Regions from separate parts of the Homo sapiens genome. Here regions 1, 2, 4 and 5 are each linked to region 3. The links come from fine-mapping of genetic effects on gene expression. A gene starts in region 3. Each other region holds a variant in brackets. All regions are shown on one strand. Distances are from middle to middle.

Region 1 (6,146 bases), 33 kb before region 3:
CCAGGCCCACCCCAGCAGTTCACGGGAGGCTGATGGGCCTTCTGATGCCCTGGGAATCCCAGGGGCTCTCGTGGGGTAAACTGAGTCACAGAGTCCTGGTGACTGTGGTGCTGGTGGGGGTGAGCGCTGAGGTCAGGTCCTAGGACCCCGAGCTCCCTTGCTTTCCCCAGGGATGGGAGCAGACGGTAAGCAGGCAGGCTGTTACGGGACCTGGTCCCAATACAGCCCTGCCTGCCCCAGCACACGCAGGTGCCCACAGGTGCACACGCACAGGCAGAGGGGCAGCAGCAGGGCCGTCTCCCGCTGTGGGCCGGCCATGGCTCTGAGGCTGCTCCAGCATCTCCCAGTCCACTATGAGCAGGCCTCTCAGCGTCTGCAGAGCCCCTGACTGCTCCAGAGACCAGAGGCCAGGCGCCCCACCCAGCCCCGAGGCCACTGCCGCCCTGGCTCCCGCACCTGCCCACTATGGCAGGTGGGCCTCAGCCTCCCCGGCCTGCCCTGACCTCCCCAGGGGCGCCCTGGCTGCAGGAAGTGTGCAAGGCAGGGCCTGGGGGCACAGCTGCAGGGATTCCGCAGCTCCTCCCTAAGGACAGAGCCCTCCCTAGCGAGCTTTGGTGCCCTCATCCAGCAGCCGGTCAGGGTGGGTGCTCTCGCCGGAGAGAAAGACCTGTCCTGCCAAACCCTGCAGACCCTCACACAGAGGGCCAGTGGGGGCCTGGAAACTCCATTCATTCAGACAGAATGATTCTGCCTCCACTGACGTGCATTCACCCCAGATGTGCCACCCGTGACTGGGGCCATGCCAAGTGGCAAGGCACCTCCTGGCAGAGGGCACGGGGGCCTGGGGCTGTCAGGAGGGCCAGCCAGTGCAGATCAGGAAGGAGGGCTCCTGGACCAGGCTCCACACAAACCCCCAAACCACAGGCCCGGCAAGCGAGAGAAAGCTCAGATACTCTGGCCCTAGGAGGCCTGGAGCCTGGCTGGAGGGTGGGAAGGGACAGTGGGGGCTCTGGCCTCTGGCGGGCTCCCCTCACCCCCACATAGGTGACAAGGTTGGCAGGCGGGCCTTGAGCCTCTCCCCCAACCACACCAGCCACCATCCTTGACCCACGACCCACGACCACAACCCTGGGCTCAGCTGCATGTGGGGAGCCTGTGGGCTCCTCCCGGCCACTCAGTAGCGGGGGTCCCCACACCTGGGGTGGCATCTGCCTGCCCAGTGTCCCTCCTGGCTCTCACCCAGGGCGGCTGCTTTCTCTCCCTGCGCCCCCCCACCCCACGGCAGGGCTCGGCAGGGGCAGGGGAAGTGGTGTGGGGAGCAGCCCCTCCGAAGACCCCACGTGCCCGGGTGCTGCACAGCCCTCGCCTGTGCCCGCCCAGAGTGGCAGTTAGCACCGTGGCTCCCCTGACCCTCACGTCTGTCTTCGTGGGGTGGCAGGAGCGGGACAAAGGTCATACAGAAGATGCTGGATTTAGAAGCAAAAGAGCAGGCGGAGGGCCCTCAGAACCAATGACCCTCAAATCCCCCCCGAGTGGGCAGTGAACTGGGGGCCGCATCTTCAGTGGGAACAGCGGCACCCACCTGACCCCGGGGGCTTCCCTGGGAGCATCCTGCACACTGAAGGCGGCACGGGTGCCCACCTGGCGAGGTCTGAGTGCAGTGAGCTGACGTTCCCTCCACACCCGTGCCCCTGCCGGCCCTGGGGACCCTGACTCCAGCCATAAGCCCACTCTGCCCTGTGCTCCTGCACAACCTCATGCTCTCCAGGCCCTGCCATCAGGCGGGTGGGGTCTGAGGACACATAGGCGGCCCCACTTCCATCCTCTGGCACTCAGCTGTGTGGCTTCTGTGCCCCATCGGGCTCTGCTCCGTTCTCTACCTGATTCAGTTCTGGACATGAGGCCAATGGAGTTTTAGGGTCTCCTGCAGGGACAGAGACCACTTCAATGATTCTGCAGTATCAACACTTTCCCCAGACACATCCCAAGTCCCAGGCAGCTTTACCCCTTCACACTCAGACCACTGTGTCCTCCCACAAGCATGACCTCTGCCCAGTTCAGGCAGCAGCCTGGCTGTGGCCTCAGACGGACAGGGGCTCAAAATCTGATCTCCTGGTTTTGGCATTTCCACCCCTCCCTCTGCAGCTGTGAGGCGTGAACCCGGGGCTCAGGTCTCAAGGCTTTCCCCGGGCCCCGAGCTCTGGGCGCTTCCCCCCAGGGCACACAATGGCAGCAGCTAGGGCTTGGCTGCTCAGGCCACTGACCGGGCTGCTTCCTGACCACAGGGAGAGCGCCGCGGGTCCCTGGCCTTCATCCGCTCCCCCAGCACCGACAACGTGGTCAACGTGGACTTCACGCCACGATCGTCCACCGTGGAGGCCTCTGTCTCCTACCTCCTGTATGTGGCCATGGTCATGCAGCTTCCCTGGGGAAGAGCCCAGCCTCGGGAGCTGAGAGTCACAGACAGGGCTGTGGTGGCTCCTGGCCTGGGGGTGGCATGGAAGAGGGGAGAGGTGCAGAAAGAGGGGGTGGGTGTCTCCTTCCACAAGCCCTCCTATATTAGGCCGTGGCCAGACTCCCTTAGTGCTGGATGGAAGGTGAAAGGGAGGGGCAGCAGCGGACTGGGGGCCAGGCCTGACGTGTTTGCCCCTGGCCCGCAGCAGCCTGTCCTGGTCCCCATGCCACCCTTACTGCTCCTCCGGCCCTGGGCTCCACAGCTCACAGCCAGTTCTCATAGGAGGTCCACTCTGCCAGATGTGCAGATGCTGGGGTCCCCGAGTCTTACAGCCAGGGCTTTGGAGAGGGACCAGTAAGGAAAGGGACCCACTTCAGACAGGAGGCCAGGAAGGCCTCGTGGGGAGTCAGCCTAAGCCCCGAGGGGAGAAGGGGCTGGCCAGATGGCAGATGTCCCCGTGCCCCAGCCGGGTGCCCACCATGGGAAGGCGAGGGGCACGCAGGAGGCAGCCAGGGCCAGATGCC[C/T]GCCGTGGGAAGGCGAGGGGCGCGCAAGAGACCCCACCCTGAGGGAGCCTGTATGGCTCAGCGCTGGTCCCCACGCAGGAGAGAAAATGTCAGCGCTGTCTGCCTGGACATGCAGTCTCTGGAGCAGCGACGGCGGAGCATCCGGGACGCGGAGGACATGGTCACGCACCACACGCTACAGCAGTACCTGTACAAGCCGCGGCAGGAGGTGGGCACTGCGGGCTGGGGGCTGGAGGACCCCGCAGGGACCCCGTGGGGCGGCTTCCTCGTCCCCTCCTGGGACCACGGGGGATCCGTGCTCAGCTCCTGCGGCAGGAGGGCGAGAATGTCCGGCGGTGGGCACAGCTGTGACCTCCGTGCCTGATCCCGCAGTACAAGCATCTGTACAGCCGACACGAGCTCACGCCCACGGAGGACGAGAAACAGGACCGGGAAATCTTCCACAGGACCATGCGGAAGCGCCTGGAGTCCTTCAAGTCGACCAAGCTGGGGCTCAACCAGAACAAGAAGGCGGCCAAGCTGTACAAGCGGGAGCGTGCCCAGAAGCGGGTAAGGCTGGGTCACCAGGAGGCTTGGCGGGGCTGGGGCCTGGAGCGGGGGCAGTCAGGGCTGGGTGTGGCTGTGTCGGGGTGTGAGCAGCTTCACGTTTGCTCCGCAGAGAAACAGCAGCATCCCCAATGGGAAGCTGCCCATGGAGAGCCCTGCGCAGAATTTCACCATCAAGGAGAAAGGTGCGCTGGGGGCCCTGCAGGAACGCTGGGACTGGGAGCCACCACCTCCCAGCCCCAGCCCTCCCGGCTCGGGAACCTCCCCTCTCAGGACCTTCCCCTCTGGGGACCCTCCAGCCACCCAGGCAGGGGAGGCATGGTCAGGGCCCCAGCTGCAGACCCACCCAGGATGGGGTTCCAGGGACACTGCCCTCTAAGTGGGGTCCCTCCTCCAGCCCTGCGGTTTAGCCCTCCTCTCTGTGGGTCCCGACTGCCTGCACCTCTGTGCACAGAGCTGATGGACACTGCTGACTGGGCTGTGAGGACAGCCCCCCAGTGACCCCAGTCCTCACCCCAACCTGTCTTCCCCAGACTTGGAACTTTCAGACACCGAGGAGCCCCCCAACTATGATGAGGAGATGAGTGGGGGGATCGAGTTCCTGGCTAGTGTCACCAAGGACACAGCGTCCGACTCCCCTGCAGGTGGGGACGGGGCACAGGCGTCGTGGCTAAGGGAGGGGTGGCTCCTGCCGCCCCAGGAGGGAGCTCGGTCATTGGACCAGGGGCACTGGGACCTGGGGGGGTGGGGTCTCCTGTGGGTTCTCAAGGGCCCTGCTTGGCACCCACTGAGTGCCCCCTCAACCAACTCGGAGGCTGCTGTCCGGGGAGACGTGGGCCGGGCAGGGAGCAGGTGGGGTATGTCTTGAGGGAAGCGAGACGTTACCTGTGCTGCCTGTGGCGTGTGGGGTCATGGATGTGGGGGAAGGGCCCGCAACCTGAAAGGCACGTGACCCTAACCTTCCCGGTGACCCTAACTTTCCAAGGCACCCAGCAGGTGACGGCCCCGGCGAGGTCTCCCCTGCCGCCGTGGGGCTCTCCGAAGGCTGACTAGCCGCTGCCCTCTCTCCTAGGAATTGACAACCCTGTGTTTTCTCCGGACGAGGCCCTGGACCGCAGCCTCCTGGCCAGGCTGCCGCCCTGGCTGTCTCCCGGGGAGACGGTGGTCCCCTCGCAGAGGGCCCGCACGCAGATTCCCTACTCTCCCGGCACCTTCTGCCGCCTGATGCCCTTCCGCCTCAGCAGCAAGTCCGTGGACTCCTTCCTGCAGGCAGACGGCCCCGAGGAGCGGCCCCCCGCCGCCCTCCCCGAGTCCACACACATGTAACGCTCCCGGGCCTCCCGCCGCCTAACCCCTCTCCGCAGCTCCTCTCCCTCCAGGTCTCCGCCTCGCGCGCGCTGTCTCTCTCCCTCCCCGCCTAACCCCTCTCCGCAGCTCCTCTCCCTCCAGGTCTCCGCCTCGCGCGCGCTGTCTCTCTCCTCCCTGGACCTGAACCTGGCTCGCTCTCTCTCTCCCCGCCTAACCCCTCTCCGCAGCTCCTCTCCCTCCAGGTCTCCGCCTCGCGCGCGCTGTCTCTCTCCTCCCTGGACCTGAACCTGGCTCTCTCCCTCCCCGCCTAACCCCTCTCCGCAGCTCCTCTCCCTCCAGGTCTCCGCCTCGCGCGCGCTGTCTCTCTCCTCCCTGGACCTGAACCTGGCTCGCTCTCTCTCTCTCCCCGCCTAACCCCTCTCCGCAGCTCCTCTCCTCCAGGTCTCCGCCTCGCGCGCGCTGTCTCTCTCCTCCCTGGACCTGAACCTGGTTCTCTCTCTCCCTCCCCGCCTAACCCCTCTCCGCAGCTCCTCTCCCTCCAGGTCTCCGCCTCGCGCGCGCTGTCTCTCTCCTCCCTGGACCTGAACCTGGCTCGCTCTCTCTCTCTCCCCGCCTAACCCCTCTCCGCAGCTCCTCTCCTCCAGGTCTCCGCCTCGCGCGCGCTGTCTCTCTCCTCCCTGGACCGGAACCTGGTTCTCTCTCTCCCTCCCCGCCTAACCCCTCTCCGCAGCTCCTCTCCCTCCAGGTCTCCGCCTCGCGCGCTCGCTCTCTCTCCTCCCTGGACCTGAACCTGGCGCGCTCTCTCTCTCCAGCAGCCCCTCTTCCTCCTCTAGCGCCCTGCTGGCCGCACCTCCCTCAGGAGCCCGGACAGAGATACTCTGGCGTCTCTGCTGCTCCCACGGAGCTGAGGGCACTAGGGCCGCCTGAGATTTCCTTTAGGTGGCTCCGAAAGCTAGTCCGCGAGTCCAAATCCTGCGCTCCCAGGGAGCTGAGAGCAGGGCTGGGGGAAGCCAGACAGACGCCCCGGGTCCCCGACCCTCTCACAGGGATACAGGGAGGGCCGGCCCCGCAGACCCGGACTCTGCCTCCAGCTCAGAGCAGGGAGAGGGGCGGGCCGTGGGGTCTGGGCTTTCTGAGCTCCCTCTGGGGGCCTGGGAGGCACCCGGGGGACGCCAGGGCGGTTTGAGATGGAGGAAGCAGGTCCCCTTGGGGACCTTGACCTCCCGCGCTGCAGGGCCTGGGGCGGGACCTTCCTGCGCCGAGGAGGCCGCTGTCCCGGGACCCCCGGCGGGGGGACGTGGCGGGGCCGGGCT
Region 2 (6,146 bases), 150 kb after region 3:
GGAAATTACTCCCTGATATCGATAGCAGAGCTGGACGCTGTGGTCTGTGGGACTCTACCCTTAATGGCTTCATTTATTTACGTGGATCTAACCTTATATTTATCTATGTAAAGAAATAAATTTGTCATTTGTTAGATTCACCTGTGCTTGAGATCTCTTTTTAAGAATATTTTCCTAGCCATTAAAGAACATAAGTCGATTTTCTTTTTTCATTTCCCTATTGCTATGTGACAAAAGGTCATATTCTATACTTTTTGTATTAAAGGACTTCAAATTACTGATACTTTGGATGACTTCTAAAGTCTTTGCCATATTCTGAATGAAGAATGTGAGCCCCAGGTTAAAAAGATCAACAATTAAATCACAGGGTGTGTGTTCACCAGGAGGCCTGGTGTCATTTTCTTGTGGGCCGTTTGCGATTGGCTGAGAGGGAAGATCTCGTGCTGTGTTCTCACCACGGGCACAGGTGCAAGGAAGCCCCCAGCAAGTGTGGAATTCCTCGATTGCTTTGATTTGGTGATGGTTTCATGGGTGTTTGCTCAGGTCAAGTCTCACCAAAGTGCACACATGAAATGTGTGCAGCTCTTTGTGTAGCAATTATACCTCAAAAAAGCTGAAACACTTTTACACTTGAAATAATCGAAGTGACATTTTAATCTAAAGGTATACAAATCTATCGCCTACATGGCTGATTTTTCCATGAGAGTCTCATTTACAAGAGAAACACAATTATGAAATCCGTACCCTTTACTTTTTAAGGGTAACGGAAGAAGCATAAGTTTCTGCTAGGACAGCGCTTACGCTCTCCCCCATGTTTATTCCGTGGTTAACCACATGGTAGATCCACAGTGATTCAGGAAGATGAATTATCTGCAACACGCAGAAGTTCAGTCCTCTGGCATGTACGAATCCTGGTGTGGTTTTTGCACAACATTCTGCCTGGGATGCGTGGGGAGAAGCTGTGATAACAGGATCGGGATTCATTCATGCTTCATTCATCTGGGAGGCCTGCGACTGCCCGGCACAGTGTGGGCTGAGCCTCCAGCGCCGAGCACCAGACACTCCACCCTCCTGAGGCACTTGTGCGGATGCAGGTGAGATGCCCAGACCAGCACGGTGTGCGTGGGGGGTCGGGCACCAGAGAACTTGAGATGAGATTCAACTGTGTGGATGGGTCTGGTGGAGGTGGTGGCTCCCGGGCTGGGGAGGCATAAAGACGAATCCCGGTGACCCTTGCCCTGAAAAGCTGCTATGTACATTTAGTAGAAGACTGTCGATGAAAACAGACTCTCAGAAGCAAAGAGGGGCCTCGACGGGCCCCCCCACCCATGTGCAATGCCAGTCTTACTCTCTCCACCCTCGAAGGGAGCGTCCTCCTCACCTTTCTGGTCCACCTTCCCTTGCCTTGCCTGCAATTATCCACTGAATTCCTGCAGCCCCAAACAGTCTTTTTGATGTGGACTACTTTGAGCTCGACATAAATCAATTAATTAGCAGCGTGTGTTTTTGCTGCTTCATCCACTCACACACTATCTGAGACCCATTCATGTCTCTGGGGGTCCCTCACTCGCCTTGCACTGGCTGACTCCACTGAGGGACTTGCTGGGATGTCCTCATCCACCTGCAGTGAACGAGCATTTGGATCTCTTCCCACTTAGGTCTGTGCAAACAGTGACACCAGGTGCATCTGAAATATGCCACGTGCCCAGGTGCACGTGGGGCGTGAACAGCTCCCTGACCCCTCTGTGGCGAGAGAGCAGAGGCCCAGGGTGAAGTGGGGAGGTGTGGGTGTGGGGCCAGGCTGGGGTGGGGGAGAGGACACTGGATTCTGGGCCTTATCTGAGGGTCGAGCAGCAGGTGTCGTGGCCGATCAGATCTGGTGTTGAACTGGCCTGATTGTCCCAGAGAATTGATGTTCATGGTTTCTCTGAATAACATAGAAATGGATCCTTTTGGTCTTAAAACTTGAGAAAGTGACATTTGTCTTATTTGAGTTCCTTTCTTAGGAAACTGACCATCAGGCCTCCCAGGTAGTGTGAAGGAAGAGAGACTCACCAGATCACGCCATCTGGACAGTAAGACGCCAAACCCCTCACCCATCATGAGTGCCTGACCAGCCACCTGCCTCCTCCTGACCAACTCCTCTTCCTCACTCTCCCTAATTCCTGTTTTCCTTACACACAGTCACACTTCTTCCCTGCTATATAGTCAGTCAGGAAGATGGATTTGAAGCTGACCTCCCATCTCCTGGCCTGTAGCTTCTGATGCATGCCTTCTTCATTGGCAGTAACTATCGTCTTAGTGATTGGCTTTCTGTGTGGAGAGCAGCGGGATCTGGAACAAACCCCTGCATTCCGGGAACAGGGAGAGCAGCCTCAGCAGGCCCCGGGCCCTGAGTGCGGTCATGACCACCAGGGACCACCCACCGAAGGTGAATGTGGACAAGAAAAAAAAGGCTCCTGAGGACCCAGCCAGAATTCCTGCAACATCACGGAGAATCATGGCCACCCGGCCCATGCCCCCTTGAAGGGCAGCTGCAAGATTCATCTCATTTGTCTTTCTTTCCTGGACATCTTCAAATTTCCTTCACCACAACCTTGTGATCCTGAGATTCCATCAATATGTGCATTGTTTTACTATATTGCTTTAATTTACTCTGCCGGTTATCTGGAGAAATGCAACCTCATCAGCAGAAATTATTTCCACCCTGCCGCTTTTTAAATGTTATTTCCTATAGCCAGGTACTGAGCCCTTCAATGGAGGTCTAAACCCTCCACTCTCTCCCTCTGGGATTGCCAAGCCTGTGGTTTCAGTTCCATGCTCCCAGGTAGATGATGTCAACTCAAAGTCCAATACGCTTATGAAATACTTTTTGTGGTTTTTTTA[TTTTAA/A]GAGTTTTTTTTAATATGTTTTTGTTTCATGGAGGTGACACCCTCTGTCTTTGACTTGTGGCAGCCTTCCTCCTTCAGTCTGCGTGTACTGAAGCTAGTGTTTGCTGTACAGCCCCTCAGCCGCAGCAGCCCACAGTGAGGTGCAGGTGCTCACGCCACCGCCCCAGAGAGCTCCTCCATTCGCCCCTCCACCCGTAGCCCCTCGAAACCACTGCCCTGCTCCCCAACACGGTAGCACTGTCTTCTCCAAGATGTCACGTGGCGGCATCCCTCGGCCTGTGCGCACCGAAACTAGCTTCCTTCACTGGGCATGTGGCCTGGGAGACCTGGGGCATTTGGGTGCATCCTTCCACTGCTGGTTGGTGCCCCCTGTGTGGAAGCATCCGCGTTGGTTCCCGCCTCCTCCTGCCGATGGACATTTTGTTTTCTTCCAGTTATTGGCAATGAGGAATGAGGCCTAAACACTTGTGTGCAGGTTTGTGCATGCACGTTTAAGTTTTCTCTTGGGGGACGTTTCAGGAGCGGGGTTGCTGGATGACAGGGTAAGGATGTGCTTAACTTCGTAAGAAACTCCCGGACCACTTTCCAGCATGGCGGGACCCCTCCCATTCCCACTGCAGCTTATGAGGGTCCCAGTTCCTCTGCATCATCACTAGAACCTGGGTCGGCCTGTGGTTTTTGTCTGTTTTTAGCCATTTTAATAGATTTGCAGAGGTACTGTTGACTGGCATTTCTCCAGCATCTCTACGACGTTGAGCCTCTTTCTCGGGCAATATGCCCTCCTTATACCTTCTTTGATGAGGCCTCTGTTCCAATATCTGCCCTCTCTTTAATACTGGGGCTTTTACTTTCTTATGGTTAAGTTTTGATGGTTCTTCACATATCCTGCGTGCCAGTACGTTGTGAGACGTGTGATTCACAAATGTTTATTTCTAGACCATGGTTTGTGTTTCATTCTCTTTAGATTTTTATATTGCTTTATAGCATTATAATTTTAAATTTATGACAATTTAATTTGTCAATCTTTTATGAATCATGCTTTTGGTGTCATGTCTAAGAACTTTTCGCCCAACCCCAGGCCATACAAATTTTCCTGTGTTTTTATCTAAGGGTTTTATAGCGTTATGTTCTCCATTTAGGCCTGTGATAAATGTTGAGTAACATTTTGTGTCAGCCATGGCCATACCTTTCTCCGTCTCTGACAGTATCGCGGGCGTTTGCAGCTCCCAGTGCCTCGTGCTGTTCCCGTCTTCTTGATCTGCTCTTCCTGTCATACCTTTCTCCGTCTCTGACAGTATCGCGGGCGTTTGCAGCTCCCAGTGCCTCGTGCTGTTCCCGTCTTCTTGATCTGCTCTTCCTGTCATACCTTTCTCCGTCTCTGACAGTATCGCGGGCGTTTGCAGCTCCCAGTGCCTCGTGCTGTTCCCGTCTTCTTGATCTGCTCTTCCTGTCATACCTTTCTCCGTCTCTGACAGTATCGCGGGCGTTTGCAGCTCCCAGTGCCTCGTGCTGTTCCCGTCTTCTTGATCTGCTCTTCCTGTCATACCTTTCTCCGTCTCTGACAGTATCGCGGGCGTTTGCAGCTCCCAGTGCCTCGTGCTGTTCCCGTCTTCTTGATCTGCTCTTCCTGTCATACCTTTCTCCGTCTCTGACAGTATCGCGGGCGTTTGCAGCTCCCAGTGCCTCGTGCTGTTCCCGTCTTCTTGATCTGCTCTTCCTGTCATACCTTTCTCCATCTCTGACAGTATCGCGGGCGTTTGCAGCTCCCAGTGCCTCGTGCTGTTCCCGTCTTCTTGATCTGCTCTTCCTGTCATACCTTTCTCCATCTCTGACATTATCGCAGGCGTTTGCAGCTCCCAGTGCCTCGTGCTGTTCCCGTCTTCTTGATCTGCTCTTCCTGTCATACCTTTCTCCATCTCTGACAGTATCGTGGGTGTTTGCAGCTCCCAGTGCCCTGTGCTGTTCCCGTCTTCTTGATCAGGTCTTCCTGTGAGTTTCAGGGCATGTCTTAGTGCTGGCGCTGTCCTGGTCCATCAGGGGGTCCTGTGGGCTTGTCCATATGGGAAAGTCGGGACTGTGATGTTGACGGGATGCCCTGTGAGTCAGGGGGAGGTGCTGATGGGGGTTTCCATGTAGGAGAGAGAGGTGTTTGGTTTTCCGGATGGTGCAGACTTGAGAGGGGACAAACTTGAGAAATGCCACCAATGAGAAGCCCAGGCAGAGCAGGTCTTGGGGCCGCCCAGCTGTGTGGGAGCCAAACGTGGATGTGTCAGTGGCCACGCCAGGAGGTAAACCCTCAACCAAGGGCCTCTAGGTGTCCAAGGCCAAGTCTTGTTCAAGAGGTGCGTTCAGCTGAGCCAACCATGGCAGAAATGCATAAGGGAGATCCCATGGTTCCTCTGTTTAAATCCTCTGCTAATCCCCACCCGACTCAGAGACGGAGCCAAGTCCTCACAGCAGCCTGCCACCCCTGCCTGACTCGGCCTCCTCTCGGCTCTGTTCTCCATACCCTTCTATCCCTCTCTGTCTCTTCTCCCACCAGAGAGGAGATCCTGCACATTTATCCTGGTGGATTCAAACCCATCTTTGCCATACAGATAGTCACCGGAATGAACAGGTATAAAGAGTCCTTTTGAAAAAGAAAAAGGCAGGCCAGGCATGGTGGCTCATGCCTGTAATCCCAGCACTTTGGGAGGCTGAGGTGGGAGAATCACCTGAGGTCAGGAGTTTCAGACCAGTCTGGACAACATGGTGAAACCCCATCTCTAGTAAAAATACAAAAATTAGCCAGGGGTGGTGGCGGGCGCCTGTAATCCCAGCTACTTGGGAGGCTGAGGCAGGAGAATCACTTGAACCCAGAAGGTGGAGGTTGCAGTGAGCTGAGATCACACCACTGCATTCCAGCCTGGGCAACAGAGTGAGACTCTGTCTCAAAAACATAACAATAGGAATAATAAAAGAAAAGTGCAAAAATTCAAACAACTTAACAGAAACTGGGGAAAAGAGCTGAACTGGCCCTCCACAGAAGAGGAAATGTGGAGGAATGGCTAATGAAAACATGAAGAGGGGCTCAGCCTAACAGTGGGAGATATCACGTGACACCCACCAGATGGGCAAAAATCCCACCACCAACAACCCAATCCATGCCAGTGTTGGGGAGAATGGAGAGAAGCAGGAACACCACGCCCTGCTAAGAACGGTTGTGAAGTCTATTTTTGTTATGCTTGTATATGAAAGAGTATGTTGTGGGTTATG
Region 3 (6,146 bases):
CTGAACAAAATGCCCTCTAGTGGTGCTCTGTAGAAGAGCTTTAAATAAGACTACTTCTCCTTCCTCCAGTATTGTTTAAAAACTTAATAGACACTTTCAGGGTGTTGTTTTTGTTTCTGTGTTTTTTTTTTCTTTTTGAGACAGAGTCTCACTCTGTTGCCCAGGCTGGAATGCAATGGCACCATCTCGGCTCACCGCAACCTCTGCCTCCTGGGTTCAAGCGATTCTCTTGCCTCAGCCTCCCAAGTAGCTGGGATTACAGGCGTCAACCATCATGCCTGGCTAATTTTTGTATTTTCATAGAGACAGGGTTTCACCATGTTGACCAGGCTGGTCTTGAACTCCTGACCTCAGGTGATCCGCCTGCCTCGGCCTCCCCGAGGTGCTGGGATTACAGGCATGAGTCACCGCACCCGGCCTCAGGGTGTTTAAAAGCTTGTTCCTTTGGTGTTTTCACCATTCCCACTGTCTTCTAAGCAAAGCTACTGAGTGGTAATACACTGCTGAAAGTAACTGCTCAAGAAAGTCCAGCTCTGCCTCCTTGCACATTACCATAAAGGCTAGTTTAGCAAAATCATCATGGTGATGTCAAGCAAGAACCTGAAGCCCAAGACAGATCCTGGGAGTGGGGCAGGTGGCCTCACCTTCAATCTGGCCTCCACGGAGGCCTTCTTCCGCGCTTCTCTCCTGCGATACTGCTCCACCTTGTCCAGCTGGTCCGGGCGCTGGAGCATCCCAGCAACCCTTTGCACTGCTGTCGCAACGGCCTCCCGGTCTGTCTCCTTCATGGTGAAAAAGCTGGTGGAATCCTCACACTGTTCATGCTAGGGGTGTTCTCTGTGCACTGCAGGAGTTGTTAGGACGGTAGAAATGTTAGGTACAAAACCTCCCCCAAACTATCAGGTGATCACAGTGGAGCTACAAGCAGAGCCTCTGAGATCATTAATCCAGGAAACCTCAAAGAAAGCTGAACTAGGATGAGGAACTCCTTGATAAGATAAACAAACCTTCGTAACACAAACATGCAGAAGTTATACCTTTAAGGGGAGAGCAGGGGCGTTTCACAGGCATGAGAGACATGGACATTGCGAAGATTCTAGATGTGGGTCCCAGACCACCCAGCATGTAGATGTCAGCCTCAAAGGCACATCTCTCCCCAAGACAGGGCTGGTTTCTCATTTCGGGAGCTTTCCCCCAGCACCTTGGCCAGGCCTGTGGGCAGCTGCACCAGGACCCTCAGTGAAGACAAATACAGCGTGGACAACTCCCCCGACCAGGTACCACAGCTGGAGGCCCAGCACAAGCCCCACAATTCCCACCCTATAAAAGTGACAATAGTCAGCCAGGCCCGGTGGCTCACGCCTGTAATCCCAGCACTTTGGCAGGCCGAGGCGGGTGGATCACGAGGTCAGGAGATCGAGACCATCCTGGCTAACATGGTGAAACCCTGTATCTACTAAAAATACACACAAAAAAATTAGCTGGGCATGTTGGTGGGTGCCTGTAGTCCCAGCTACTCGGGAGGCTGAGGCAGGAGACTGGCGTGAACCCCGGAGGCGGAGCTTGCAGTCAGCCGAGATCGCGCCACTGCACTCCAGCCTGGGCGACAGAGCGAGACTCCGTCTCAAAAAAAAAAAAAAGAAAAAAAAAGAAAAAGTCATTATTGTCTTGGGTATCCAAAACCCCATTTCCCCCTTTTTTAACTGTCCTAGAAAACATCATGCTTCCCTCCTTTATGCAGGCCCCGTGCAGACCACAGGTGCTCAGATGCCAGGCAAGCCTGCCTTCCATGCTCCCTCCACCATCGTCCTCCTCGGGGAGCTAACACAGCTGCTTGGTGAGCATCAGTCAATGAGGGAATCCGATACACCTGTTCCCCTTGACTTCAGCTGTCTGATTTTCATCTTCATGAATATTAAAAAGATTCACCTTCTCCTGGAATTTTTCATTCTCCATGCCCACATGCTTTCAGACACCTCTCTTCTCCTTTTTCATCTGGACCTACATTGCAACCTTTCCTTTCTCTTTATTTTCTGATTATGAAATTTGGCATACCAACGTAGAAAATCTGGACAGGACAAAAATACAAAGATGCCAGAGGCAACTCCCCTTAAATCCCATCATCTATGGGCAACTCCTCTTAAATCTTGCTACCCAGGGGCAACTTCCCTTAAATCTCACAATCCAGGGACAACTTCCCGTAAATCCCACCACTCAGGGGTAACCCCCGCTATATCCCACCACTCAGGGGCAACTCCCCTTAAATCCCGCCACCCAGGGACAACTCCCCTTAAATCCCGACACTCAGGGGCAACTCCCTCCAACAGGGCTTGTTTCCTTCCAGTTTTTTCCCTTTGAGTTTCTTTTAAAGCTAAGATTCCACTGCTTATATGACTTTGTAGGTGCACACTTTTGTTTTCTTATTTTGTTTGGACATTATCATCAGCATTTCCATTGACATTAAAGCCTGTATGATTTTGATTATAGGGCTGGATAATAACCCAAGAAGTGGACCCCCAGCCGCTCTGCTGGGGCACGCGGTGAGGTGGCTGCGCCCATCTTAAGGCTGGAGTGAAGTCTGTCACGCTGTGGGTGGAAGCCAAGGCAATGTGAGTGGAGAGCTGTGAAGCAGGGCTCGCCTTGGAGTCAGAATAAAGCTACTCATGTGGAAAAGGGGAAAATCTGGAGTTAAAAAACGCACCGCAGAGGCTTCCATCCCAGCCTGAAGACTAAAGATTTTGGGTCACAGAAGCCAAAGAGGAACTCAGAGACCATAAACAGAGACCCAGGTCCAGCCCCTACCAGGGCCTTTCTGACTGCCTTCCCCTGGCGCTGGCTCCGCTGTGAGCCTCTCCGCCGAGCGGGGGGACACCCTACTGCGGGGAACATCAGCACCCACGGAGACACCTGCGCCAGGGAGACACCTCTGCCGGGCAGACACCTCTGCCAGGAGGGACCCTTTACCGGGGGGACGCCTGCGCCGAGGGGAACACCTGTGCTGGGAGGCACCTCACGGAGGGGACACTCCGCTGGAGGACACCTGCACCTTGGAGGACACCTGCACCTTGAAAGCTTCCTAAAGGCCAGGAAGGACGCTTGTGCCCAGAAGGACACCTGCTCCGACGAGGGACACCTGGTCCGAGGGGGGACACCTGTGCCAGGAAGGACAACTGCGCCTGGGGGGGGACACCGTCAAGAGGACACCTGCACCAGGAAGTACACTTGTGCCTGGGAGGGACACCTGTGCTTGAGGGGACACTTGCACCTTGGAGAACTCCTGCGCCGAGGGGACACCTGCGCCAGGAAGGACACTTGTGCCTGGAGGGACATCTGCCCCAAGGAGGGACACCTGCTCCGAGGGGGGACACCTGTGCCAGGAAGGACACCAGCGCCTGGGGCGTGGGGGAAGACACTGTTAAGGGGACACCTGCACCAGGAAGGACCTTGTGCCTGTGGGGACACATGTGCCAAGGGGACACCTACGCCTGGGGGGGACACATGTGCCGGGGAGGACACCTGCGCCGAGGACACTCGCACGAGCGGGATACTCCACGGGGTCCGGAACGGCCTCCCCGCCCTCCAGGTCCCGGTCCGGCCTCCCCCTACGCGCCCCCGCGGAAGCCAGAGACAGGGAGAGCAAGGATGAAAGACGGCGACCACCTCCCAAGGACCCGCCGGCCGTCAGGACCTGCCACCGACTCACCCTCTACGGCTACGCCGCCGCCGCCGCCGCCGCCGCCGCCGCCGCCGCCGCCGCCGCCGCCCCCGCCGCCCCCTCCGCCTTCGCTGCCTCCGCCTCCGGGGTCCCGGCCGGAAGTGGACAGCGCGCGGGCACTTCCGCTTCCGGCAACGGCGCCGGAAGCACGGGTCCGGGCCCTCCCGCGGGGCGGGTACTCGTCTCCCGGCCGAGCGACTTCAGCTCGGGGACCTGCCCCATGGCCGCTCCCCAGCAGGACAGGGAAACCGCCGAGGTGGGGGGCTTCTTGTCCGTCCCAGCCCCCCCAACTCAGGCCCTCTCGCTGCCCCTGGCGACCACCGCGTGCGCCCTTCCCCAGGGCGGGCGCAGTCCTGGACGCCTCCGCCGAGCGTGACTGCGTGCATTTTCTCTCCTTTCCCTTCCCAACCTGCGGAGAGAAGACAGCCCCAGAGCCGCTGTCTCCATCCTCTGCTGATGCCTGCTGTCTTTATGTTGGCCTCGTCGTCCGCACTGCAGTGTGGCAGGGGCGTCCCTCGTTTCCCGCGGACTGAGGTGGGCGCCGGGCATTCAGTAAACGAAGAAACCAAAGCGGAGAAGGTTGGGAATCAAACGTCTGTCATACCTGCCACCAGCAGACAAGCGGCTTTGGGTACCTCCTGGACCCAAAGACGAACTCAGCCCCTCCAGGAGCGCAGTCATTGGCACCCTCGTGGGAACAATGCCAGTGGGATGGGTGGCCACCGGATGTTTCCGGGGCCCCTCAGAGGCCCAGCAGCGCAGGTCTTGGAGAATGAATGTGGGTCACTGGGCCGCGCTGCAGAGGGCCGGTCCTGAGTCGCTTCCTGGAGGAGAGGCCCATGGCCAGCACTTGGCTTCGCCTGGAGGAAGAAGCACGTGCTAAACCACGAGCGTTCAGGGTTTGTCTGTTTGATAAAAGATGCTGGCTTTGACACACCAACTGACAAAGTCTTTCATAGGTTGGAGCTGCTAGGTTGTGCCCCTGCCCCTCCTGAAAATTAGCCACACGAAAGGAAGGGTCTGGAAGGTGGCAGGGAAGCCAGCAGAGACCAGGGAAGTGGCAGCAGCATGGGGCAGGGGCACACAGGAAGGAGATGGAGCTTGCGGGAGCCCCCACTGCCACTCCGACAGGGAGCCCTGCCCCGTGCCCTGCTGATGTTGACACTGACCCCGGCTCTATTATTTCAGTTTTTCCTTGTAATTTCTGAAAATCTAGCAACAAGTTGAGCAATGAAAAAAAGTAAAAAAGTTAAAATTGTGTTAGAAATTATGACTGTAAAGAAATTTTGAAACTAATGAAGAAAAAATTGCCAAAATTGCCAAAGCTTTTAGGACTCTTAAAAATATAGTAACATTGAGTATTATGAACTAAAGACTCATACTATTATATCAGTGTCTGGTAGTGAATTTGGATGGAGGACTGTCTAGTAACTTCTTAACAAAACATTGATTAGAAGTCTTTCTTGGCGGGGCGCCGTGGCTCACGCCTGTAATCCCAGCACTTTGGGAGGCGAGGCAGGTAGATCATGAGGTCAGGAGATCGAGACCATCCTGGCTAACATGGTGAAACCCCGTCTCTACTAAAAAAAATACAAAAAAACTAGGCAGGTGTGGTGGTGGGCCCCTGGAGTCCCAGCTACTCGGGAGGCTGAGGCAGGAGAATGGCGTGAACCCGGGAGGCGGAGCTTGCAGTGAGCCAAGATCGCGCCACTGTACTCCAGCCTGGGCAACAGAGCGAGGCTCCGTCTCAAAAAAAAAAAAAAAAAAAAAAAAAAAAAAAAGGTATTTATTGGCTGGGCGCAGTGGCTCCTAACTGTAATCCCAGCACTTTGGGAGGCTGAGATGGGCAGACCCCTTGAGCCCAGGAGTTTGAGACCAGCCTGGGCAACATGGTCTTTTTGGTAGGAACCCCATCTCTACCAAAAAAAACCCCACAAAAATTAGCCAGGCATGGTGGTGCATGCCTGTAATCTCAGCTCCCTGGGAGGCTGAGGCAGGAGAATGGCTTCAACCCGGGAGGAGGAGGTTGCAGTGAACTGAGATGGCACCACTACACTCCAGCCTGGGTGACAGAGGGAGAATCTGTCTCAAAAAAAAAAGTTTCTTGACTTCTGTTTTTGGCAGACCATGTTCTGCGAACACCCAGGAGCACTGCTGAGTGCAAGCATCATGTCGATTGCACAAGTGGATTCACGAACAGGCAAGGACGTGACCAGGGACAAATGTGGGAAGGGGAGAGGACGTGAATCAGAAGCAGAGATGCTTGCCGTCCTACAGCAGGCAGGTGGGTGGGTAGGGTGCGAGTTCTGCGGCCCAGGGGTTGGGTTTTACACTGAAGCAGGACAGATGATGAAGCTAAGGCTCCCAGCAGGTGGGAGGTGGACGGCGACTCCCATGTGAAGCACAGATGTGCAAGGGATGCATCCTCAGT
Region 4 (6,146 bases), 280 kb after region 3:
TTCTACTTTGCAGAAGAGAGTTTACTGCCTAAATGGCTTTGGGTTTCTAGATCCCCAAGGACTGCTAGGACGAGAGGAGGGGGACGTCCACCTCACCTGCCCACCTGCTGCCTCCCATCCTCCTCAGCAGGGTGGAGCCCCGAGGGGGAGGACAGACTCCGGCTCTGAGTGACCGGGGGGCTCCTGGCATGCTGCCACAGCGGGAGCTTCTTCTCTGTGGCTACAGTGCTGGTTACCTCCAGGCCCTTGCTGAAGACACTAGTATGGTCTGGCTGGCAGGAGTCCCTGGGGCCACTGTCGGGCTGAGGTATCTCGAAACTTTGCGTTTTCTTTATCATTTTCTTCTGGGGATGTTTCCTGGGGCGGCTGGCCAGGGTCTGGGTGGGCTCAGAGGAACAGGCAGAGCTGTCCTCCAGGTGGGCCGTGGTGGCCCCTGCCCCTGGAAGGCCCCTGAGGAGGGACAGTGGGTCCCACAGAGCACACAGCCCTGGGCGCAGGGTCTCCCCGTCCTGTCCACACAGAAGCGCTCGTCCAGGGAGGCCGGACAGTGGTTGCGCAGGTTCCCAGGCACCACCCCCACTGTCCGTGCTGGGGAATGAGGGTGGCTTCTGGTGCCTCCTCATGGCCTCCTGGGCACGCTCATGCTTTGGGGGGCTCTGGGCAAGGGGCGGTAAGCTGGGGTCTGGGGCAGCCTCAGAAAGGGCCTCTTCCAGACGGAGCCGGGTCTGGGGGTACTGCAGCCACAGGTCTTGCTGTGATGCCCACGGTTTCCCCAGGGCATGAGGCTTCAGCACTGCCACACCTGCCCCGGGGAAGGCCTCTGCAGCCACCGAGGTAGCCTCCTGGTGACAGCTCCTCAAACACTCAGCCACGGGTGAGGAGGGACAAGCCTCCGGGTCCAGGGGCCCCATCCAGCTGCTCACCTGTGGGACAAGGAGGGCTCTGCTCAGTGCAGTGGAGGAGGGGCTGCCCTGGAGCCAGCTCAGGCCCTGCTGTTCCCCAGGTCAGCCTATTCAGGGACCAGGGGGCCAGAAAGCAGAGCGAGAGGCAGTCCCGCCACCCAGTGGGGGCTGTGGCCGGGTTCAGCGGAAGGGCAGGTGGGCTGTGTCTGACCCCATGGGGTCTGTTCGCCATGCCAGAGGGCACCGTGGGGGATGTCCTAGGACCACGTGAAGACATTGTGTAGATCAGTTATGCCACATCCTGTGAGCTGAGAGAGGCGTGACGGGGCAGACGGCTCTACCCTGCTCTGGCCACCCCATGACCCCTCAAATGCTGTCCTGACAGGTGAGCTCCGTGGCCTCTGGCCCGGGCTCCTAATGGCAGGCAGTCCCCGGCGCGGGGGAGCTCGCAGGCGTGCGGTCTGGGGCGCGTGGGAGCTCGCAGGCGAGCAGTCTGCTGTAGCACTTGTTTAGGGTTTTGGGCAATCAGTGGAATTTTCTAACTGAGCCAGTAAACACACAGAGAAATGTGTGTGTTCGTTTGGCTGGTCTGTTTGGTACAATATCAAATGCTTCACAGGTCGGCTCAGAGCCTTCTCCAGAGAGCCGTGGGCGCAGTGGCCAGGGGGGCTCCATCGCAGGTGCCCGGCCTCTGTCCCACAGCCTGGCCCACTCCAGCTTGTGAGGGGAGGCACTTGCTAGATGTCCACAGCCTAAGGAGCCGGGATCCCTGGGACGCACGCCCACTGGGTCTCTTACCGTCTCGCACAACTCGGACGAGCGGGTCCACCTGGCCAGCTCTCCCTCCCTGCACTCAGCCTGGCTGACCACGGCGCTCAGGCCCCTTCTGAAATCCTGGACCATTTCCTCTGTACGTTGCGGGTTCTCCTTCGCCAGCTGTAGTCCTTTCTGGCAGGATTGCTGTACCCAAGGAACAAAGCATCAGTACAAGCCCGGTGCTTCCACGTTCATGTCTCCAGGTGTGGGCTGGGTCTGCGTGTAGCCACTGGCACCAAGGCTCGGACGGCCCACAGTGCTGCCTGCTGCTGCCTCTCATTCTCGAGAGCAGGCACCAAAGGACCGAGGCATTTCTCTAGTTCTTTTCCAAACTATGATTTGATCTACACAGGGGAAGAACATTTTATATTTAAACATGCGAAGAAGTCACACTCTAGGATTTAGCAGGACCGAGGGAGGGATGCGTCTTGGTCATGTCCTGAGTACACGCTGCACAGGGCTGACAGCCTGGCTGCGTAACCACCCGTGAATGAACACGACTGATGAGAGGTGGCACGGGCCTCTGAGGCTCAAGCTCCAAACTATTTTCATTGTTTGGAAAAGGACATTAAAATCATTGAACAATAGATCCAGGACTTTCCATTTTGAAACTGGTTAATATGGTAAGCATATTCCAGAAATATTCTTCAGGCCAGTGGCTGCTTGGCCCCTTGAGGCTGCCTGGGAAAGATGGGGGAGCCCCTGGCTGAGCCCTGCTGGACGGAGCGCCTGTGGCTACGCGCCCTGGTGACAAGACCAAGGTTCTTATTTTGGAGGCATTTACTGCTGGATTCAGTGGAAATGTCAGAGGTAAGCCCTTCATGTTGTCGTTAAACAGCAACACCAGGGGCGACTAGGGGTCAGATGCCCAGAGATGAGAGGCCTGTTGTGAAGAAGAGAACAGCTGCCTGGATCCATGACCATCAGAAGGTACCGAATGACCCCAGACATGCAGCAGAGGAGAGACAGACCAGCACATACGCTGTCTGTAAACAGAGCCAGAGTCAAGAAGAAAATCACAGCATCTTGATTCTTAGGAGCACGGGCAGAGTCTTGCAACTGCCAGGCAAGGGGCAGGTGCGGCTTCGGCAGAGCAGAGTGGGGGTGGCGCAGAGCTGGAGCCTGGCCTCCAACTTTGTGGAAAAATCGGCTGTCATTGGTTTCAAGATTTAAATACAAAAATTCAAGTCATAAAGGTTCTATGATGAAATACACTAATAATTCTATAACTTAAGGTAGAAAGGGCTGTTTAAAAGATAAGCAAAGCTAGAGGGCAAATGACAAACTAGGAAAACAAGCAGAACATGAAGGATCCATATAACATAGACAGAAGTGATGATCAACCCTAGAAAAACTGTCTAAAGCATGAACAAGTAATTCACTACAGAAATAAAAATAATAAACGTGTGAAGAGAATGTCCAGCTGTCGCATAGAAAATCTGAGGGCACACTGTTTAGGGGCTCCATTTCCCCACGGGGCAGCCGGCGGGAGGCAGGTGCGGCTGGAGTGCCACGGCTTATGCGTGGAAACCTCCAAAAACAAATGGTCTGACCGCAGCCATCCGAGCCTAGGAATGTATCCAGAGTCAACACCCACAGGCTGTGAAGGAAGCAGAGACACAGAGATGTTCAACATGGGGAGTTTCTAACAGCAGAGAGGGGAGGAGCCCAGGGCCTTCAGTGTGGGAGCCGTGTGAACATGGCTCGGGGACTGAGCTTGCAGCGCATGCCCACACACAGGGTGCCGAGGCCGCCACATGCGGCATCCCGTGTGTAAAAATCTATTTGTTTCTAATTTTCCCACAGTGTGCATGCACTTTTTAGGTTAAATATATAGAGACAGACGTGCACCTATACATAGCAGGATCGCCTGTCCGGTCACAACGTGGAGTTTCTGGGTGAAGACTGCAGAGTGAGACGTGTCCTCTTGAGACACCACTAAAGCCCTGCAAGCATCTTCCAAGGCGTAACACTCAGCACGGTGGGCAGAGAGCAGCCAGGGCACAAACCTGGAGGCCGGGAAGGAAGCGGGAGTGGCAGGGCCTGAGGAGAGCAGAGGCCAAGTCCCGAGACTCCACAGGACAGGGTGAGGGAGTGTCGGAGGGAAGGAGCTGGGCACCCTGCTCCACAGGGCCCAGGGTCTGTTCCCTGGCAGGTGAACACTGAGCTACGGCCAGGCTCTCCTTTCAGGCCGGGATTAGAGGAAAAGAATCAGACCGCCAGGGAGAAAATGCTAAAGATGCGTGGGCCACAGGCTTCCTAGCCAGGGGTCGCCAGGAAAGCCTCTGGCGCCAGAACAAACCCACAGAAGCCACAGACTGTGCAGACTCAT[C/T]ATGATTAGTATGGAGAGGGGACTGTTCAGAAAATAAGCCCATGGAGTTAAAAAGCAAGAGCAGAAACAAAAAACTCAATAATAGAGTTAGAGGGTAAAGCTGAGAAAAATCTACCTTACAAGGACAGCACACAGCCAGGGGTGGGGAAAATTAAGGCAACAGGACAGAAAACTCCAGAACCAGATGGAAGTGTGGAGCTGTGGGAAATGCGAGCGCCACGAAGGATGTCACAGAATTCCCAGAACAGAGGGGCGCAGTGCAGACACAAAGAGCACACCTGCCCTCGGTGCACCTGGGCGACCCTCAGGCACACCTGCCCTCAGTGCACCTGGGCGACCCTCAGGCACACCTGCCCTCAGTGCACCTGGGCGACCCTCAGGCACACCTGGGCCACCCTCAGGCACACCTGCTCTCAGTGCACCTGGGTGACCCTCGGGCACACCTGCCCTCAGCGCACCTGGGCAACCCTCAGATTCCAGAGCCCCGAGGACGACAGGAAAGTCTGTGGCTTCCACCGAGAAGCAGGGCACAGGCAGAAGGCTGGGAGTGGGATGGAAGCTAAGCACAGGCGCAGGGCCTTCCAGCTGGCGAAGGGAAACTAAAGTGACTGCTGGCCATGAAGGTGGAGTAGAGATGCTTTTAGATACCACGGCCTCAAAAATGCTCACCCCAAGATCCCTTTCTCTGGGAAGTCCTGGAAGTTATTCTGCATAAAACGCCAAAGTAAATGAAAAAAGAGGAAGACTTGGATACAGGAAATAGGAGACCACAGGATGGGGCAGAGTGGGGAGGGAGATGGAGGAGACCCCAGGAAGAGCAGAGGGAGGAGGGGAGATGGGGGAGACACCCCAGGAAGGAGTAGAACGAGGAAGGGAAGACGAAGGAGACCCCCCAGGACAGGCAGAGGGAGGAAGGGGAGATGGGGGAGATCCCCCAGGATGGGCAGAGGGAGGAGGGGAGATGGGGGAGACCCCCCCAAGGACGGAGTAGAACGAGGAGGGGAAGATGAAGGAGACTCCCAGGACGGGCAGAGGGAGGAGGGGGAGATGGGGGAGACCCCCTGGGATGGGCAGAGGGAGGAGGGGAGATAGGGGAGACCCCCAGAATAGGCAGTGGGAGGAGAGATGGGGGAGACTCCCAGGACGGGCAGAGGGAGGAGAGGAGAAGGAGGAGACCCCCAGGATGGGCAGAGAGAGGAGAGGAGATGGAGGAGACCCCCAGGATGGGCAGAGGGAGGACAGGAGATGGAGGAGACCCCCAGGATGGGCAGAGGGAGGAGAGGAGATGGAGGAGACCCCCAGGATGGGCAGAGGGAGGAGAGGAGATGGAGGAGACCCCCAGGATGGGCAGGGGGAGGAGGGGAAGATGGGGGAGACCCCCAGGATGGGCAGGGGGAGGAGGGGAGATGGAGCCAGGATAGAGCAGAGGGAGGAGGGGAGATGGAGGAGACCCCCAGGACAGAGGGCACAGACTGGAGACAGCCCGGACTGGCTGGTGGCTGCAGCTTGGCCTGGACTCCACTTGCCTGGTGTGGGGTTCCTGTTCCTGCCCCAGGGATTGGACCAGCTGGGCCCCTGGCCAATATTTGGGAGCTGGGGTCAGTCGTGGGGAGGCCAGGAGCATGCACAGTGCCTCGCGTCCCTGCTGCACGTCTTTGTCTGGAGGCCCCCGTGAGGGCACGCGCATGGACCTGAAGGCCGGGGGAGCTTTGCCAGCAGACAGGAGGGCTGGGGATGCCTCCACCCCACTGCTGCCTCTCCATGCTGCTGGCTCTTTCACCCGCACATTCATCGCAGCAATAGTTGTTGATAAAATAATAAGGATTTATATAAAAATGTGCAAGTTTTGAAGAGTTTATATGTGAGAAAAGAAAGAAACTTTTTATCTGAGTGTGCACCCCTTAAACTGTCAGGCCCAGAGGGGCATCAAAATGAGGCAGCAGCATCATCTGCACCCCTGAGCTAAGCAATCATTTCGCTGGTGCCCCCCGAGCTAAGCAATCATTTCAGAGCCACTGCTATATGGACCCCAGATTCTGCAGTGTGTCCACCAAGGGCCATCAATAACCCCAGCCACGCCACACACTGTGCACAAC
Region 5 (6,146 bases), 88 kb after region 3:
CCGGGCGCTCTTCCCCAGTCGCTGACTGCCCGGGTGGACTCCGTGACTGAGGGCCTCCACTCCCGGGCGCTCTTCCCCAGTCGCTGACTGCCCGGGTGGACTCCGTGACTGAGGGCCTCCACTCGCGGGCGCTCTTCCTCAGTCGCTGACTGCCCGGGTGGACTCCGTGACTGAGGGCCTCCACTCGCGGGCGCTCTTCCTCAGTCGCTGACTGCCCGGGTGGACTCCGTGACTGAGGGCCTCCACTTGCGGGCGCTCTTCCTCAGTCGCTGACTGCCCGGGTGGACTCCGTGACTGACGGCCTCCACTCCCGGGCGCTCTTCCTCAGTCGCTGACTGCCCGGGTGGACTCCGTGACTGAGGGCCTCCACTCGCGGGCGCTCTTCCTCAGTCGCTGACTGCCCGGGTGGACTCCGTGACTGAGGGCCTCCACTCCCGGGCGCTCTTCCCCAGTCGCTGACTGCCCGGGTGGACTCCGTGTCTGAGGGCCTCCACTCGCGGGCGCTCTTCCCCAGTCGCTGACTGCCCGGGTGGACTCCGTGACTGAGGGCCTCCACTCCCGGGCGCTCTTCCTCAGTCGCTGACTGCCCGGGTGGACTCCGTGACTGAGGGCCTCCACTCGCGGGCGCTCTTCCTCAGTCGCTGACTGCCCGGGTGGACTCCGTGACTGACGGCCTCCACTCGCGGGCGCTCTTCCTCAGTCGCTGACTGCCCGGGTGGACTCCGTGACTGAGGGCCTCCACTCGCGGGCGCTCTTCCCCAGTCGCTGACTGCCCGGGTGGACTCCGTGACTGAGGGCCTCCACTCGCGGGCGCTCTTCCTCAGTCGCTGACTGCCCGGGTGGACTCCGTGACTGAGGGCCTCCACTCCCGGGCGCTCTTCCCCAGTCGCTGACTGCCCGGGTGGACTCCGTGTCTGAGGGCCTCCACTCGCGGGCGCTCTTCCCCAGTCGCTGACTGCCCGGGTGGACTCCGTGACTGAGGGCCTCCACTCCCGGGCGCTCTTCCTCAGTCGCTGACTGCCCGGGTGGACTCCGTGACTGAGGGCCTCCACTCGCGGGCGCTCTTCCTCAGTCGCTGACTGCCCGGGTGGACTCCGTGACTGACGGCCTCCACTCGCGGGCGCTCTTCCTCAGTCGCTGACTGCCCGGGTGGACTCCGTGACTGAGGGCCTCCACTCGCGGGCGCTCTTCCCCAGTCGCTGACTGCCCGGGTGGACTCCGTGACTGAGGGCCTCCACTCGCGGGCGCTCTTCCTCAGTCGCTGACTGCCCGGGTGGACTCCGTGACTGAGGGCCTCCACTCCCGGGCGCTCTTCCCCAGTCGCTGACTGCCCGGGTGGACTCCGTGTCTGAGGGCCTCCACTCGCGGGCGCTCTTCCCCAGTCGCTGACTGCCCGGGTGGACTCCGTGACTGAGGGCCTCCACTCCCGGGCGCTCTTCCTCAGTCGCTGACTGCCCGGGTGGACTCCGTGACTGAGGGCCTCCACTCGCGGGCGCTCTTCCTCAGTCGCTGACTGCCCGGGTGGACTCCGTGACTGAGGGCCTCCACTCGCGGGCGCTCTTCCTCAGTCGCTGACTGCCCGGGTGGACTCCGTGACTGAGGGCCTCCACTCGCGGGCGCTCTTCCTCAGTCGCTGACTGCCCGGGTGGACTCCGTGACTGAGGGCCTCCACTCCCGGGCGCTCTTCCTCAGTCGCTGACTGCCCGGGTGGACTCCGTGACTGAGGGCCTCCACTCGCGGGCGCTCTTCCTCAGTCGCTGACTGCCCGGGTGGACTCCGTGACTGAGGGCCTCCACTCCCGGGCGCTCTTCCTCAGTCGCTGACTGCCCGGGTGGACTCCGTGACTGAGGGCCTCCACTCGCGGGCGCTCTTCCTCAGTCGCTGACTGCCCGGGTGGACTCCGTGACTGAGGGCCTCCACTCCCGGGCGCTCTTCCTCAGTCGCTGACTGCCCGGGTGGACTCCGTGACTGAGGGCCTCCACTCGCGGGCGCTCTTCCTCAGTCGCTGACTGCCCGGGTGGACTCCGTGACTGAGGGCCTCCACTCCCGGGCGCTCTTCCTCAGTCGCTGACTGCCCGGGTGGACTCCGTGACTGAGGGCCTCCACTCCCGGGCGCTCTTCCTCAGTCGCTGACTGCCCGGGTGGACTCCGTGACTGAGGGCCTCCACTCCCGGGCGCTCTTCCTCAGTCGCTGACTGCCCGGGTGGACTCCGTGACTGAGGGCCTCCACTCGCGGGCGCTCTTCCTCAGTCGCTGACTGCCCGGGTGGACTCCGTGTCTGAGGGCCTCCACTCGCGGGCGCTCTTCCTCAGTCGCTGACTGCCCGGGTGGACTCCGTGACTGAGGGCCTCCACTCCCGGGCGCTCTTCCTCAGTCGCTGACTGCCCGGGTGGACTCC[G/A]TGACTGAGGGCCTCCACTCGCGGGCGCTCTTCCTCAGTCGCTGACTGCAGGGGTCCTGGCAAACACAGGCACCCCCAAGGAGTTCTGGGAGGGTGGCCTGACCCACAACTGGGCTTCAGCAACAGAGCCGGGGCTTCTGGACCCTTCCTGGTCAGTGTTAGGGTCCCACGTCCCAGGCTGTGACCAGGGTTCAGCCTAGAAGGGGCCCAGCTCCCCTCCATGCCCCGCAGCAGGAGGGCAGAGAGCTCTCTCAAGGCAGCAGCAGACTGTCTCCTCCTCACCACCTCCTTCCCTCTTATTTTGTGCCTGACTTCCCCTGGTGTGAATAGTAAAATCACCAAGAGTGGAAAATCCCGACCTTAACAGTCACATTAACATTAAACATCACAAGCAAATGCTCAGGCCATCATCACCCTGGTTCATGTCCTTCCCAAAGGCAACTTTTTATGGCAGCCGTAATGAAATTAGCTTACCCATCTCTAAGTCAAGAGGCATAGTTTAAGATCTAACTTTTATAGCTTGACTTGTTTCTAATTATACGTGGAAATGACTTCAGAAAAGTTTTTAGAATTTCCTCTAAAATGTACAGCCTGAAGGGGATCACAAAATTCACAATCCTTGGTAGAAAAATCAGGAAGTTTATTCCTGAAAGCTGCAGCACTCTCGTAAGCCGGTGGCCCCTGAGAGTCACTGCAGCTGCGGCAGAGGTGGGCACCTCCCAGCAGGGCAGCAGGAGGCACGCAGGGTGCCCCTGCACAGGATGGCCATCCAGTGCCATTGCCCCGGCTTGGGGCAGGCAGCAGGATGGGAAGCTCACTCGCTGGCAGTTTAAGAAGAGCCAGGTGTCCAAACTTGCTGGAAACACCAGAATCGAAGACTTTCTGAGGCCGTCAAGCCCTGGCCTGGCTGGACACAGTGGGACCTGTGCGGAGAGGAAATGACCTGGCCTCTCCTCCAACCTCCCAGCGAGAGGGTGAGGCTGTGCGGTGTCGGTGGGAGGAAGCCGATGTGACAGGTCTTCAGCTCGGGACAAAGCCTCCCTGCCGGCTGCCCCAGCCCTTCCTGCGCTGTCCAGACACGGGGACTGCCCTCTGCCATTGGCGCTGCTGAGCCGCACTGCGCCATCCATGAAAGGCGTGTCCCAGAAGGCAAACCTGGGAGCCTGCCCTCAATTCCATGCTGGTGCCCATGCCCAGGTGCATGCAGGGTGGTGCCCACTCCACCACACCAGACCACACCAACTGCACCACATCTTAACCCTCCTGGAAAAGCTGCCATCCTGCACATACGGCAAACCCCAGGTCTCTCAGGTAAACTGAGTCCAACACCACCCAGCAGCCCTGGGCACCAGGAGGCCCAGGCTGGGAACAGAGATAAATATAAAATTAATAGTTTTCAACATAAAATTAGAAAACCTGGAATGTAAAACTAAAACTTGCTGTGACCTCACCACTCAGATAAGCTCTGTTAACATTTTGTGGGATTTGATTTCCATGGAGGCTGCGGCCAGCCGGGACCCGGGGAAGACCCTCAGTGTGGGGCCGGCACTGGCAGGACACGGCGCGTGATGCTGGGCATCACCGTGACTTTCCTTCCCGCAGCCCATGGGCCACGTCCTTCCCTGGGGGTGTCTGAGGGTGCGCAGAGGTCTGCAGGGGCCCAGGCACTGACAGCCTCTTGCACCCTGAGACAGACGCCCCCCGCCCAGGGGAGGCCCCCACCCTGACTCAAACTCAGGAGTGCAGGCACCGGGCACAACTGCCACATGCTGCTGGTCACGGGGTTTTTAATTCTAAAAGTGCTGCAATCAAACCACGTGCAGGCACGTCACCCAACACAGAAGCTGAAAGCAGCTTCTCTCCCACCCTCCCGCAACAGCAAAGGCCCCACGGTCTACACCTGCGAGTTCTCTGGAGCGATCCCAGCTCCCAGGGCAGCAATAACCTGAAATCTAAGGAAACGCCATGCTTCCAAGGACAGACAGGGCACAGGCCTGGGGAGGCCCCACCTGAGATGCAGGAGCCCCAGAAGCCCCTCCCCACGAGAGGGCAGCCCCAGCAGCTGTGTCCGGGCACGGCCTGGCGTGGGCAGGGGGAGGCGCCCGGCACCCCAGGGCAGCCCCCGGGTCCCACCTAGTCAGCTGCCTCAGCCTCCTGACCATGCCCAGCCCTGCTCATCCACAAAGCCGATCCCTCATTCCCTGGAGCCGGGGTCTGTGGGGAAGCCCCAGTGAGGCCCAGCACGGGGAGGAACAGCCCCAGCCCCTCCCTCAGCAGCTGCGCAGCTTCAGCAAACCCAGGACCCCAGGCGCAAACTGGCCCATCCCAGCAAACTGAGGTGAGGCCCCCACCCTGAGAGTGTCGAGGACAGCTAGGGCCAGACCTGGCCCCAGGGAAAATCCACAGCCCAGCCAGCTCCCATCCAGGGGCCAAGTCTCCAGGTTCTGGGGGCAGCGTGGGGGAAGAAGGGAGTGCACATGGTGCAACCCACCAGACACACTTCACCTGGCCACAAGGCCCCAGATGGACTCAGGGGAGACACAGCCTGACTCAAGTGAACAGGTGGGAGCAGGTGAGAGTCCTACCTTGGAAGAAGCTCTTCACCCGGAGGTAACTGACACTGAGGCGCAGGACAGAAAGCTTGTCCAGCTTGGAGATGATGTCAGGCGGGAACGGCAGCAGGCTGGCCAGGTGGTCCAACTCGGCGTTGAGGCGGTCCCGGTGTCGCTTGGAGGGGTTGGACTTCTCTGCCCCCACGGCGGGCCTCCTGTGGGGAGATGGTCTGGGTCAGGTGGGCTTCTCCACCAGAAGCCACAGGCCCCCTGGGGCGGAAACCGTCCTCTGCAGTGACCTTACTAGGAGCATCTACGCTGCTGCCAGGACAAAAGACGGGAAGAGGACTAAAGCTCACCCATGCCTCAAGACATAGACACTAAAAACCACAGCGCACAACAGCCAAGCACAGCTCAGTATCTGGAGGGGATGTAGAGAGAAGAAGCAAACCAGCCGGAGAACCGCAGCTCAGAGCACGGAGACAGGGCACGGCCCCCAGCTGCGGGACAGGCACATTTCTCCACCTCTCCACTACGGATCCCTGAGGAGGGAGGAGGACGCCTGGCCCCAGGCTGGCGGGGCAGGAGTGAGCATAGAAAATGCCACATTCATTCAGCATCCTTAGGGGACTCCTCGGTGTCTAAACAAAACCTAACACATTCCAGGAAACATGAAAAGGTCCTCCTGGCATCAGCCGGGCCGTGCCCAAGGCCGCTCCGAGCTTGGTTTCTCCTGTACATGCTGGGGCTGAGGGGAGAGTACCCAGGGCAAATGAGACCAGGTGCCTGCCACTCTGGGGCCCCACAAAGGGGCAGTGAGGGCCATCACCCAATTCTCCTAATAAGCCAGAGCAGGCCTGCTCTACCCACAAAAAGGGGCCACCTGTGGGGCTTCCACACCACAGAGCCCAGAGAGGGAGGGAGCTGACCCCTCTCACCCAACCTACCTTAAAATGACAGGAGCTTGGCGTGACCCTCTCACCTCAGAGTGACCATCCCCTACAGCTGACCCATTTAACCTCAGAGTGACCGTCCCCTACGGCTGACCCATTTAACCTCACAGTGACCATCCCCTACAGCTGACCCATTTAACCTCACAGTGACCGTCCCCTACGGCTGACCCATTTAACCTCAGAGTGACCATCCCCTACGGCTGACCCATTTAACCTCACAGTGACCATCCCCTACAGCTGACC

Alleles and levels. Positions count from the first base shown, and alleles are read on the strand shown. Sizes are in standard deviations (SD) of each study's normalised expression. Not every link is listed here.
With allele T in place of C in region 4, the expression in fibroblasts of the gene that starts at base 3,818 in region 3 is lower (moderate effect, 0.68 SD a copy in GTEx).

The links. PIP is the estimated chance that this variant, and not a neighbour inherited with it, causes the effect.
Region 1: its variant is fine-mapped to the expression of EXOC3 in whole blood (TOPMed, PIP above 0.99).
Region 2: its variant is fine-mapped to the expression of EXOC3 in whole blood (TOPMed, PIP 0.98).
Region 4: its variant is fine-mapped to the expression of EXOC3 in fibroblasts (GTEx, PIP above 0.99).
Region 5: its variant is fine-mapped to the expression of EXOC3 in whole blood (INTERVAL, PIP 0.97).

What each region holds. Positions count from the first base shown.
Region 1 is chr5:473,584-479,729 of GRCh38, reverse strand. It overlaps SLC9A3 (solute carrier family 9 member A3), which reads left to right. Exons shown (of 17, transcript NM_004174.4): 11 at 2,286-2,398; 12 at 3,058-3,187; 13 at 3,352-3,528; 14 at 3,638-3,710; 15 at 4,059-4,169; 16 at 4,598-4,847. It overlaps SLC9A3-AS1 (SLC9A3 antisense RNA 1), which reads right to left. Exons shown (of 7, transcript NR_125375.1): 2 at 4,411-4,593; 3 at 3,167-3,498; 4 at 2,394-2,486; 5 at 1,881-1,924. Among named protein-coding and RNA genes, the nearest start is that of SLC9A3-AS1, 3.4 kb to the right of the region's middle. RefSeq lists enhancers at 1,397-1,566, 3,962-4,602 and a silencer at 5,787-6,146. The variant C/T (reference allele first, on the strand shown) is at 2,980.
Region 2 is chr5:291,954-298,099 of GRCh38, reverse strand. The region is part of intron 2 of PDCD6 (programmed cell death 6); the gene reads right to left. All of the region lies in intron 2 of PDCD6-AHRR (PDCD6-AHRR readthrough (NMD candidate)), which reads right to left. Among named protein-coding and RNA genes, the nearest start is that of PDCD6-AHRR, 23 kb to the right of the region's middle. RefSeq lists enhancers at 564-1,092, 1,093-1,621 and a silencer at 2,923-3,093. The variant TTTTAA/A (reference allele first, on the strand shown) is at 2,887.
Region 3 is chr5:440,848-446,993 of GRCh38, reverse strand. EXOC3 (exocyst complex component 3) reads right to left here and starts at 3,818. Exons shown (of 13, transcript NM_007277.5): 1 at 3,704-3,818; 2 at 645-844. The coding sequence starts at 788. It overlaps EXOC3-AS1 (EXOC3 antisense RNA 1), which reads left to right and starts at 3,834. Exons shown (of 1, transcript NR_126522.1): 1 at 3,834-5,159. LOC124900930 (a long non-coding RNA gene) reads right to left here and starts at 173. Exons shown (of 2, transcript XR_007058671.1): 1 at 1-173. RefSeq lists enhancers at 3,154-3,243, 3,294-3,423, 4,194-4,303, 4,324-4,373, 5,957-6,016 and 1 more and a silencer at 3,724-4,113.
Region 4 is chr5:157,499-163,644 of GRCh38, reverse strand. It overlaps PLEKHG4B (pleckstrin homology and RhoGEF domain containing G4B), which reads right to left. Exons shown (of 20, transcript NM_052909.5): 12 at 1,701-1,862; 13 at 97-923. Among named protein-coding and RNA genes, the nearest start is that of LRRC14B, 31 kb to the left of the region's middle. RefSeq lists enhancers at 2,973-3,473, 3,474-3,974. The variant C/T (reference allele first, on the strand shown) is at 4,051.
Region 5 is chr5:352,749-358,894 of GRCh38, reverse strand. AHRR (aryl hydrocarbon receptor repressor) reads right to left here. Exons shown (of 11, transcript NM_001377236.1): 3 at 4,984-5,165. PDCD6-AHRR (PDCD6-AHRR readthrough (NMD candidate)) reads right to left here. Exons shown (of 13, transcript NR_165163.2): 5 at 4,984-5,165. Among named protein-coding and RNA genes, the nearest start is that of AHRR, 34 kb to the right of the region's middle. The variant G/A (reference allele first, on the strand shown) is at 2,399.